Regions from separate parts of the Homo sapiens genome. Here all the other regions are linked to region 2. The links come from fine-mapping of genetic effects on gene expression. A gene starts in region 2. Each other region holds a variant in brackets. All regions are shown on one strand. Distances are between the middles of the regions.

Region 1 (4,200 bases), 65 kb after region 2:
CCTCTCATTTTAAAGTATATGGCAGCTCCCACCCCCTACCCGCCTCATGCTCTTGCTCTTGCTCCTACTCCCACTATGTGGCGTACCTGCCCCTGCTTTGCTTTCCACTATGATTGGAAGCTTCCTGAGGCCTTCCCAGAAGCAGATGCTGGCACCATGCTTCCCACACAGCCTGCAGAACCATGAGCCAATTAGACCTCTTTTCTCTCTGCATTTCTCAGCCCCGGGTATGTCTTTATAGCAGTGCAAGAATGAACTAACAGAGCACCGGCCCCTCCACTTCCAGGTCCCACTTCACAGCTGTGCACCTAGGAGAGGAGAGGCTTTCTGGGGAGGAGGAAGGGTGGCTCCTGGGCCTTGAAGATCCTAGAGCTTTGCCTGTCCTGTGTGTGAGATGGCTGGTCTTGGGGCGACCTGTCTGCTGCTTCATAGGATGCATTGTGTGTTCGTCTGTCACTGCGTGGCCACTGTGGCAGAGGCCAGGCAAGGCACATTTCAGTGATTTGTGATCCAGGCAGCCATGGCTGTGTGGATGGCTGTGAATGCCTGCTGCTGATTAGGATAAAGGAAAAGCTGATTCTTTTAAAAATGGTTTTAGTACCTGTTCTTAAGGGCAGAATTTGGAAGGGGTGTGTGTGTGTGTGTGTGTGTGTGTGTGTACACAAATTGACTGTGTGCCCATGCTGATTTGAAAATATGAAAAAACTCATCATTTTCCCACCTGCCATCGCTGGGCGACACACACCGTGCTGAGCGCTTTCTCCTGGCTCCGCAACGAGGTGGTCCTGCGGAGCAACACTCCTCTTTCCGTCTCAGCCAGCCCTGTGCTGGCCGCCTACCCTCATGAACAGGCGTCTTTGTGCTGGCAGGGGCTCTTGTTGCCCCCCAGATCTCCCTGTGCCCTGTGAGGTTGGCCTCTGTGGACCGCCACCTGAGCCCCTGATCTCTCCCAGATGGTGGGAGAAGTGGGGCCTGTAACATCCTTTCTGCAGCTCCATCACTGCCAAGCTCAGCCCCCCACTGGCCTCTCTGGCAGCATCCGCTCCTCCTGGGCTCTGTCGTCCTGTCGCTCCTGGATGTTCAGTGGCTCCCGCTAGGGTCAGTCCTGCAGTGCTTCCCCCTCCTTTGCTGGTTTTCCTGAACCCTGCCCATGTCTACTTAAAAGGCCTGGATGAAACTCACTTTCCTACTCCGCCAAGGGCCCCTTACAGCCAGCGGCCCGGCCTCTGCAGGCCCTCTTCAGAGGGAATTTCACGCGGGGCTTTTTCAGAGAGAACTCGGTGTTTCAGTTGGTGAACTGTGGTTCCTGGGTCCCAGCCCCACCCCTGTGTCTGCGTGGCTGTCCCTGCTCAGGGCCTCCCCTAAGTGCCACCCATTGCTCTCTGTCCCCCTCCTGTGGCTCTTGTCACCCTCCTGACATTAATGAGAACACTCAGTAGTTCGTTTCCATTTGTGGCTCCCAGCCCTAGGACAGAAGCTTCTGGCAGGCAGGGCTGGGTTGTGGTTTGTGTACCTGTGGCATCCTTGCACTCACAGGAGACACCTGCCACAGATCATGTGCTCACCAGCATTGCTGAAGGAACTCATGAAGTACAGGCATCTGCCGGGTAGACATTGAACTATGAGCTGGGGAAACATTCATTCACGTTAAACAGAATGCACCAATGCCTTTTTCCCCCACAGCTGCCGGGCCGCAAGTACAGCCCTGGGTACAACACCGAGGTGGGAGACAAGTGGATCTGGCTGAAGTGAACGGGCCGCCTTCTGCTCCAGCTGCATCACAGTGATGGCCAAGCTGCATCAGCCGCACTCTCCTGGACGCCATATAGCTTTAAGATCGGGGGAGGGTAAATAATGCAAAAATTGCACAGTGGAAGAAGGGGTCTCACAAAAAGCAATCCATCCTGTAGTATAGGTAATGGAGTTGGGGGAAGCAGCTTCCATTCTGGATGTTTGGAACCCTTTAGCTTTGTTTTGGAATGGCCCACCATTCTCACTGGAAAACAGTGGTCTGCTGTGAAAGGCCAGCTCTCGGCAGCCCCTGTGGTTTCAGCGCTGCCGCTCTGTGTCATTCAGGTTGTGCACATTGTTTTTCTTCTGACTTCCAGAAATAAAAGTGTTTCCATGGGAATTTCCCCATCGTACGTCTATGTGCGTGCGGGCACGTCGAAACTGCACACGTGCACACA[C/T]GCTGCTCTGGGCCCTGTTTGGTGTGGTGTGGTTTAATTGAGGCTTACATTATGCTGAAGAGTTTTTCTAAAGGCCTACTGTATTTATTTTAGTAATGTGCTACATTAGAGTAGAAAAAATAAGAACGTGAAGAAGAAATAGCAAAAGGAGAAAATTACCACAGATTTACAGAACAATATGTTTTAAGAGAGACGTTGAGAAAGATTCACGTGGCCGTCCTCAGCGTCTCAAACTCCTTTGAAGGGAGATTTGAGCTTAGGCTGTTGATGACATAAGATGCAAAAGCAAAATAATATACTCTCTTTATTACCCAGAAAATCAAGTTGCCAGTCAAAACTGAGAAATGAGAAAGAAAATCAGATTTCTTTATTCATCTCTGTTGAAGCCTAGAAAACCAAAACAAGCTGGTTGTGGTTCAGCATCATGGTTTAGGAATCAAGCTGTCAGTTGTGAGTCCTACTGAACTGTGGGTTTTCCACTGTAAAGCTCCACTGTGTCCATTAGGAATCAGGCTGCCAGTTGTGAGTCCTACTGAACTGTGGGTTTTCCACTGTAAAGCTCCACTGTGTCCAATATGGTAGCTCCTAGCCACATGTGGGTATTGAAATTTAAATGAGCTAAAATGTAATAGAGTTTAAAATTGGGTTCCTTGGTTGCACTGGCCATAGTTCAGGCACTCCACAGCCGCCTGTGGGCAGTAGTTCCAGTGCTGGTGCAGAGGACGATGCTCTGCTCCCCGCGGAAGCTCTACCAGGCCTCGCTGCTGCGGAGCATGCGAAGAAGATGCACACTCCTTCCCTCCTTGCGTCCGCCTGCCTTTTTCCCTCTCCCCTTCCTTCCCTCCTTCTTTCCTCCTCCTTCCCTCCCTTCCTTTCTTCCTTCCATCTGTCCTTGTTTTCCTCCCTTCCCTTCCTCCCTGCCTCTTTCCTTCCCTCCTTCTCTTCCTTCCTTCCGTCTGTCCTTGTTTTCCTCCCTGCCTCTTTCCTTCCCTCCTTCTCTTCCTTCCTTCCTTCCGTCTGTCCTTGTTTTCCTCCCTTCCCTTCCTCCCTGCCTCCTTCCTTGTTTTAAGAATTTGAAAATAAAGTTTCCCAGGAGTTTTGAATTGGAGTCGAGATTTAAGTGGCTGAAGTTTTGCATTTCACTAGGAAACCAACAGCTTTAATCATGAAATGAAAGCACAGCTGGGCATTGGGCCAGTCACAGAGTGTCTTTTGCTCTGAGCACTTCACAAACCCATTGTGGAGGGGAGGAAAGAAAAAGAAAGCCATCTTTAATTATCTTAGCTGTTCCTAATGTCTTTGGCTGCAAAGAGCTAGCTGTTTCCTTCAACCTTGGTGGTTGCACGGGTAGTGTCCTCAGCAGTGAGAGGGCAGGTCTGCCCTGTGGTCAGGATTGCCCTTGTGAGGGGCAGAGCTCTCCAACCATGCAGGGCTCCGTGTCGGCATGGTGTGGACTCGGGTGCTCTGATCATCCCCTGTGTTTGCGTCTGACCCTGTGTGGTTGCATTCCCTTGATGGAGTGGGAAGTATGTAATTTGTAGTGCTGAGGACATTCGTCTGTTTGATTTTCTGGTGTTTTCAATGACATGCATGTTCAGCAGAGAAAGATGAATAAACACTGTCCAATTCTTCTCTCCACATAGAAGCCTCAAGAAGAGGTGAGGAGATGCCCCGATTTCCTTATTTCAGAGCAGTACATGCGTTCGTCTCACGAAAGCTCTTACAACTAAAACAACAGCACCAACAAACCAGGATCAAAATAATCGTGCATTTTCCAGGATTCCATGTTGGACTTCTCAGTGCTTTGGAGATCAGGAAATAATCATGCTGTTGCAGCAGTATGGTTTTGTGTCTGGATTTTATTCATACAGGCATGTGTTTACAGGCATGAGAATTCTGTATTGAAAAGAAAGTCCTTGTTTTTTTCTAACGTATCTTTCTGTTCCATCAACTGTTAAAACCAAATTGTTAAGAACATTGAGCTTCTTAGGAGAGATTACATGCAGCTACT
Region 2 (4,200 bases):
TAGCTCTCAGAACGTTCTAGCTGGGGAGGGAAAACGGAAAAAGGGGGGCGAGAAGCGGAGGGACGGGGAAGTATATAGTAATACTTCCCTTGAACCAGTAAAACTGTAATGCCCAACCTGGTTTTTACTAACTGTTTTCAGACTCTCCCTTTTCCTTTAATCACCTAGCCCTGTTTCCACCTGAATTGACTCTCCCTTAGCTAAGAGAGCCAGACAGACTCCATCTTGGCTCTTTCACTGGCAGCCCCTTTCTCAAGGACTTAACTTGTGCAGGCTGACTCCCACCACATCCAAGAATGCAATTAACTGGTAAGATACTGTGGCAAGCTACATCCGCAGTTCCCAGGAATTTGTCCGATTGATAACGCCCAAAGCCCCGGGTCTATCATCTTGTAATAGTCTTAAAGCCCCTGCACCTTGAACTGTTTACTTTCCTGTAACCATTTACCCTTTTAACTTTTTGACTACTTTACTTCTGTAAAATTGTTTTAACTAGACCCCCCCCCCTTCCTAAACCAAGGTATAAAAGTTAATCAAGCCCCTTCCTCGGGGCTGAGAGAATTTTGAGCGTTAGCCGTCTCTCGGTCGCCAGCTAATAAAGGACTCTTAATTCGTCTCAAAGGTGGTGTTTTTCTAACTCGCTCAGGTACAACAAAACATCCACGCAAACAGGTTGTGAGAAGTTACGTCTGCGTGCTGTGATACCTAGAGGAACCACTACGAAAACTATACATAATGATATTTCCCAAGACATTATCAGTAAATCAAGATGGAATTCTAAAAAAATGTACTGTATCCATTGGAAGGCACAAAAAAAAAAAAAAAAAAAAAATGCAAAGGAAACAAGGCAAAAAACAGCAGACATGAACCCTAAAGCTTGTTAAATGGATTTCAGGTGCCCTCCAGGATCTAAAAACCAGACCCTCCTGCGTTGGGGACCGGGAATCCGTATTTTTGACAAAAAGCAATTCTTCAATTATAGAAACATCCATAGAACCGGCCGTAGTTTACACAGCTGCATTCCCACTGTTTTACAATCGCATGATCATTTCTGAAAAGTTGAAAACAAAGTTAAAGAATATTTAAGGGGTTAAGAACAAAAAGCCTGGGGAACACAAAAGATTATAAAAACCCTTCCCAACAGCAGGCATACTTGGAAGGAAACCTCACATGCAAGGCTCCTTCGTGGAGCCCAGAGCCCAGGTCCTGACGGGAGCACATTTTAAGAGATGGACTTGCCGGCGCGGTGGCTCACGCCTGTAATCCTAGCACTTTGGGAGGCCGAGGCGGGTGGATCACGAGGTCAGGAGATCGAGACCATCCTGGCTAACATGGTGAAACCCCGTCTCTACTAAAAATACAAAAAATTAGCCGGGTGTGGCGGCGGGCGCCTGTAGTCCCAGCTACTCGGGAGGCTGAGGCAGGAGAATGGCGTGAACCAGGGAGGCGGAGCTTGCAGTGAGCGCGATGGCGCCACCGCACTCCAGCCTGGGCGACAGAGCGGGACTCTGCCTCAAAAAAAAAAAAAAAAAAAAAAAAAAAAAAAAAAAAAAAAAGAGATGGACTTGGAGCGTGTGCTTTTGTTTTCTATGCTATTCAATGTGTTCACAGCAGGTCCCCTGGATGAGACCACTTAGCCTTCAGCTCCGGAGGCGACCCAGGCCGGCCTTGCCAGGTCCCTCTCCCTGACAGGCGCCCCGCGACAGGGGTCCCACCCCGTCCCTCCGCTCCTCGCCCCCTCTTTTTCCACTTTCCCTCCCCAGCGAGAACGTTCTGAGAGCTAGGAATGTTCTCTAGGAGGTCGCTTTGACGTCCACACCGCGCCTGGGGGATTCTGCGGGGAGCACAGGACCCTGGGACGAGACGCAGAAGTCGCTCCACGCCCTGGGCGGCCTCAGCTCCCGCGACACCGCAGCAACTCAGAACCCAGGCAGGGGCCGGGCAGCCAGCATGCTGCCCCCACGTTCACCTCCAACTCCCACCTCTCGGCCCTCGCCCCAACCCGCAGGACCCTGGCAGCGCACTGGCTGTCTCCGCGGAAGCCCCCGAGGGCCTCGGCGCGGCCCCGCCCCCTGGAAGGTTCCCGACAGGCGCCGCGGGCACCCCGGCCGTGACGTCACGGCAGCGCGCCGGCCGCGAGAGAGGGCCCCGTCGCGACCGCGTCCCCTTGGGTCCTTGATCCTGAGCTGACCGGGTAGCCATGGCCTTGCGGCTCCTGAAGCTGGCAGCGACGTCCGCGTCCGCCCGGGTCGTGGCGGCGGGCGCCCAGCGCGTGGTGAGCGGGCGGCGGGGTGGCAGGGTGGCGGGGTGGCAGGGTGGCGGGGTGGCGGGGTGGGGAGCAGTTCCACATCTCCCCCGGCCTCTGGCGGCGGCTCCCAGGTCGCTCTCCGGGTGGGTTTGGGGGACCCCTCCTGCCTCCGGAATTGTTTGGTCTTTGGTCGTGGACAGACCTCAGGGGGCCACGAGCTTCTCCAGGCCATTTTATCTCAGCTTTAAGCAAAACGCTGGAGCGCGGAGGTGATCAGGGCCCCGAGGCTGCCCTGATGCGGGAGGCCCGTGTGCAGGTGGCAGGCCGGGGGCACACGCGCTTGTCATTAGATAATTCACGTAGCAGCCCTGTCAAGAGCCGTTTAAAGGTCGGGCCCTGCTGGGTGCTTGGGTGATGCCATGTTGAGCAGACACGGAGTTCAGTGCTTGTGTCCGCTTCCTTTTGCCTTTACTCTGACTGACTACTCTCATTTCTTAGCATTTTGCCCCCACCTTCTTCAGTGAAATCGTTTCATACATTTGTAACACAGTTGGATTGCTTTGTCACATTCTGCCTTACATCTTGGGATCCTTCTACCTAATGCGTTTTTTAAAATGTGCATACATTGAGCGCATTCTTTGTGCTATAAGGTTCTATGGATTTTTTCTTTGTGCTATAAGGTTCTATAGGTTTTGACACGTGTGTAATAGCATGTCTCCACCATTATAGGTTCGTACAGAGTAGCTTCACTGCCTTAAAAAATTCCCCTCTGCTTTACCTATTAAACCCTTCTTTTTCTCCAACCCCTGACAACCACAGATCTCATTAACATTTCCATAGTTGCCTTTTCTGGAATGTCATATAATTAGAATCATACAATATATTGCCTTTTCAGACGCCTTGAATACTTGGAAATATCTATGTAAGATTCACTTATGTCTTCGTGGCTTGGTAACTCATTTCTTTTTAATCACTGAGTAATATCTCATTGCATGGATGTACTTCAATTCATTCAGCAATTGAAGGGCATCTTGGTTGCTTCAAGTTTTTGGCAATTATGAATAAAGCTGCTGTAATCGTGTACATGCAGATTTCTTTTTGGAAATACATTTTTATATCATTTGGGTAATACCTGGAAGAGCGATTACTCATGTAGTAAGACTAGTTTTCTAAGAAGCTGCCAAGCCATCTTCCAGAGTGACTGTGCCATTTGACTCCCACCAGAAGTGAAGGCTCTCCTTGTTGCTCTGCGTGCTCGCCAGCATGCGGGGCTGTCGGTTACTTTGGATTGCTATCCATTCTGATAGCTGCGTAGTGGTATCTTGTTTCAACTTTGGAATATCTCATGATATACAGTGTTCATCTTTTCATATACTTATTTGCTATCTGCGTTAATTTCATTTGCGAGAGGTGTTTACATCTTTTGCCCATTTTTAAATTGGGTTGTCTGCTTTGCCTTGTTTTGTAACTTGTTTCTTCCTTACTCTTCAGTTATCAAATCAAGATCGAAAAATATCTTGATATTTCATATTCTCCTGTTTTATTTAAATTTCACTATAAAGTATTTTAATATTTTTGTGTTTTTCTGAGTACTTAGTATTCCATAATATGGATATGCCTTAATTTTGTTTAACTATTCCTCCGTTGTTGGACATTTAAGGGTTTCTATTTGCATTTTTGGTGTTACATCATACTTCATTGAGCATCCTTATAGGTCAATCTTATGTATATACTCTTTGAATGGATTCCTAATGCTGTAGACCCAGCGTCCTCTAGGTTTCATTACCATTAGCAGTTTAGGATGGTACTCATTGTCTTGTCCTAACTCTGTAATCATTTTTTAAATTATTTCTCATTTTGACACATGAAAAACTAATGTTTCCTTGTTAATAGTCTTTTGTTTTTTTGTAGCAAGGTTGACCACTTTTTCATGTGGTTTTTGGCTATATTTT
Region 3 (4,200 bases), 52 kb after region 2:
TTATTTAAGAGGGTTTTATTGGCTCACGGTTCTGCAGGCTGTACAGGAAGCATAGCAACTTCTGCTTCTGGGGAGGCCTCAGGAAACTTACAATCATGGTAGACGGTAAAGGGGAAGCAGGTACATCCTAATAAGGCAGGAGCAAGAGAATGGGGCAGCAGAGTGTCACATATTTTTAAATGACCAGATCTTTGGTGGCAGAGTGTCACATATTTTTAAATGACCAGATCTTTGGTGGCGGAGTGTCACATATTTTTAAATGACCAGATCTTTGGTGGCGGAGTGTCTGTCACATATTTTTAAATGACCAGCTCTTTGGTGGCGGAGGAGTGTCACATGTTTTTAAATGACCAGCTCTTTGGTGGCGGAGGAGTGTCACATGTTTTTAAATGACCAGCTCTTTGGTGGCGGAGTGTCACATATTTTTAAATGACCAGCTCTTTGGTGGTAGAGTGTCACATAGTTTTAAATGACCAGCTCTTTGGTGGCAGAGTGTCACATATTTTTAAATGACCAGATCTTTGGTGGCAGAGTGTCACATATTTTTAAATGACCAGATCTTTGGTGGCAGAGTGTCACATATTTTTAAATGACCAGCTCTTTGGTGGCGGAGTGTCACGTATTTTTAAATGACCAGATCTTTGGTGGTAGAGTGTCACATATTTTTAAATGACCAGGTCTTGTGTGAACTCAGAGTAAGAGCCTACTCATCACCAAGGAGATGGCCCAAGCCATTCATGAGGGATCAGCCCGCATGATCCAAACACTTCCCACCAGGCCCCACCTCTGACACTGTGAGTTACATCTCAGCATGAGATTTGGAGGGGACATCCACACTCTCATTTGATGAACATGCTGGTGACATGGGTACACAGACGAGTAAAGAAAGACCTTTTCACAGCAGAGTGGATCTTAGATTTTCATATGAATAGAAGGGTTTATGATTTTTGGTTTTGTTGATCCTGTGACCTTGGAGTGTTTGTCTTGTCACTTGTCTGGCTAGTGTCCTGATGGCTCTCAGGCACCTGTCCACACTCTAGGCGACACCCAGCGCTAGGGCACTGATGCCTCAGGAATCCAAGTTTTCATCTAAAACAGCGTTTTCATTGGGTGCAGTGGCTCACGCCTGTAATCCCAGCACTTTGGGAGGTTGAGGCGGGCGGATGACTTGAGGTCAGGAGTTGGAGATCAGCCTGGCCAACATGGAGAAACCCTGTCTCTTCCTAAAAAACACAAGAATTAGCCAGGCGTGGTGGCGAGCACCTGTAATCCCACCTACTCGGGAGGCTGAGGCATGAGAATCACTTGAATCCAGGAGGCGGGGGTTGCAGTGGGCCAGAATTGCCACTGTGTTCTAGCCTGGGCAACAGAGTGAGACTCCATCTCAAAAAAACTAAAATTAAATAAAAATAAATAAGTAAAGCAGCATTTTCAGTGGGGCATGTGTACCTGGGGTCTGAGCAATATATATGAACATGTTTTTCCTTAGCGACCCTCCTCATTTTGTGCCCGGAATTGACCCTGTGTAAGTTCATGAAAATACTGAATGTGTGCAGGACAGGCTGCTGATTTTTTAAAGTCACGTTTTAAACATTGTATCAGGTCACTTTTTATTTCTGTACAGCCCTTCTTTGGATTAGACAAACTGTGATTTGGTTTCTATTTTACCAGTTCAGTCTCTTCAATGGAAGGAAGCCAGATGCTGTTAAGATACTGTGCTCCCTCCTTGAAGCTGATCGTTCCCTCCTTGAAGCTGATCGTTCCCTCCTTGAAGCTGATCGTGTCCAAGATAGTTGCTAGGACAACAGAATCTTCTGTTTTCTCGCCTGCTATTTTTGTTTCTTTTACTATCTCAAGTTGTTTTCATTTTCAGTATTGAGTTCTCCCTTACCATTTTTTAAAACAGAGATGTTTTTATTAACTTTAATATGTTAATACTGTATGTTCTTGCCTTTATGAAATTCACCTTACAGAAAGGCACTAGGATCAGTTTACCTAAACATGCGGGAGACGGAAGGCCAGACGTGACTGCTTTAG[G/A]TTCCTCATGACATTCAGACCTTACTTGGAACTCAGTTTGGTATCTAGTTGTGTTAAAATACAAATTTTCAGTTTATAAGTTACTTAATTAAGTTTGAAAGTAAATGCGTAATGCCTTCAGTGTTCTCTCCACTTTGTGCCCTGCCACCTGCACTGTGGAAATTAATCATAGAAACTCGGCGTTAATCTGTATGCCCGAGTTATTTACATCTCTGTGTATGGAAAATTATCAGCATGTGTCCCTCGAAGAAGATGATGAGCATAAAAGGTGATCTTTACCAGGTCCATTGGTTTGTATGTGATTGCTGTGGTATGTGGTATCTGCCTGTCTACTGATGGAAAGTGGTAAGATACTGTCTTACATGCAATCTGGAAAATCAAGTGCCCTGACTTTACAGTGTGTTACATATGATTGTATTTACTTTAGAATTTTTAGAAAGCATACCATTTTCAGGTTTAAAACAAGCACTTAGGTTAGGAGCTTTTCTATTATTCACAGCTAATAAGAGTTAAGGAGGATTAAGACATTTGAACTATTGTTAATACTCATTGCAACAAATATGACAGCTAAATAATGATATATTTGTAGGAAGCTATAGTTTTATGTGTTAAAAAATAGAACACACATTTTCAAAATAAAAATATGGTTTTTGAAAGTTGACTGTTAAAAGATTTTTTGAAAATTTATGCCAATTTTGTTACATTCGATTTGTGTTCTACAGTAATGGAAATTAAGGGAAATTGTGTATCAGAGAAGTGTCTTTAATATCTATAGTGCTCTTCTTTAAAATTAATGAAAAACTCCAAGCAGAATTGATTAGCATTTATATGTTATAATGGAAAATAGGAGTTGGAAACTGGAATTTCCAAATCACCCCAGAACTTTGCAGTATTTTGAAGCTCCTTAGTGCATCTAGAGAGAGGGGAGCCAGTCATGCTTGGCATAACCCATTGCTTGCCCCAGCAGAGTGAAGCCCACCCGGTACACAGGCCCTCACTCAATCGTTTTTTTGTTTAATTTATATATTTACAGTAATACAATAAAGGGTTTGTTGCTGGAATATACACATATTTATTTATATGTATAATATTTATCAATATATTTACAAATATATGTATACATGTACACACACACACACACACACACACACACACACATCCTTCATGAAAACTCTTTCAGCTGGGAAACTGAGCATCCTTGAATGTCCCTGAGGTGACTACTAGGATATAAACATCCCCCAAGAGAAGTGCTTTGAGTTACATACGAAAGGACCTGCAGAAAGATTGGAGTCACCTTTATCTGGGTAGAGTGGATTGTGGACCATAACCTAACAGACACCCAAGAAATCTCATAGCTGAGACCTTGAGCAACATACCTTTACTATATATATGCTGATTGACAGATAAATGGAAAATTGGAGGGAATGAGGGGAATTCAGTAAAACCTCGTATAAGTAGTATGTGATTGAGGAAAGAGCTTATTGTGTTATTTTTAAGAGTTAGCACACTAAAAGTTACAATTTAATTCAACGAATATTTACATGCTGTAGTGGGAAAAAGATCCTGGACTTGATCATTAAAAGATCGGGGCTCCACTTTCAGCCTGCCACCAGCTAGCCACGTGACCGTAGGCAAGTCAAGTCTCTGAACACCCTGTCTCTTTTAAAACAGAGACTGTGCCTTCCTTTACCTCATGCTGTCAGGGTCACAGGAAATAACACTAGTAAAAAGGTTTCTACTTAGAGGCTGCCCACTAATATCAGTAAGTGTATCAATGATTGCATTGGACATAACTTTGTGATGAGTACCAAAGAAAAGTCAAAGGATGAAGGGAGCTCTGAGAAGGAAGGGGCATTATTTCATGGCAGGATTCGAGGAGGCAGAGGTGGCTCAGGACAGCACTTCAAAAAGAGTGAGTGGCATAGGTGTTCAGTAGAGAAAAGCCATGGCCTTGGCCAGGAATAGCAAGTCAGCTGCCACACTCAAGGAAGACCTACTTGGAGACCCTTGCGATGTACCTGGGCGGGGAGGTGCTTGTTCAGGAGGTTTCTTTGGCTTTCTCCTGAATGACATTTCCTGAGATATATCTACTATCAAGTTAATCACATTCACTCACCAAATAAGTTCTTTTCTGCTTTCTTCTTACAAAGTAGCATTTGAGAA

Evidence for each region. PIP is the estimated chance that this variant, and not a neighbour inherited with it, causes the effect.
Region 1: its variant is the best candidate, but not a certain one, in a credible set for the expression of NDUFA10 in whole blood (INTERVAL, PIP 0.71).
Region 3: its variant is the best candidate, but not a certain one, in a credible set for the expression of NDUFA10 in whole blood (INTERVAL, PIP 0.87).

The regions. Positions count from the first base shown.
Region 1 is chr2:239,958,670-239,962,869 of GRCh38, reverse strand. It overlaps NDUFA10 (NADH:ubiquinone oxidoreductase subunit A10), which reads left to right. Exons shown (of 10, transcript NM_004544.4): 10 at 1,684-4,200. The coding sequence ends at 1,752. Among named protein-coding and RNA genes, the nearest start is that of MIR4786, 18 kb to the right of the region's middle. The variant C/T (reference allele first, on the strand shown) is at 2,190.
Region 2 is chr2:240,023,302-240,027,501 of GRCh38, reverse strand. It overlaps NDUFA10 (NADH:ubiquinone oxidoreductase subunit A10), which reads left to right and starts at 2,160. Exons shown (of 10, transcript NM_004544.4): 1 at 2,160-2,275. The coding sequence starts at 2,201. RefSeq lists an enhancer at 1,336-2,165 and a silencer at 1,974-2,233.
Region 3 is chr2:239,971,133-239,975,332 of GRCh38, reverse strand. The region is part of intron 9 of NDUFA10 (NADH:ubiquinone oxidoreductase subunit A10); the gene reads left to right. Among named protein-coding and RNA genes, the nearest start is that of MIR4786, 30 kb to the right of the region's middle. The variant G/A (reference allele first, on the strand shown) is at 2,038.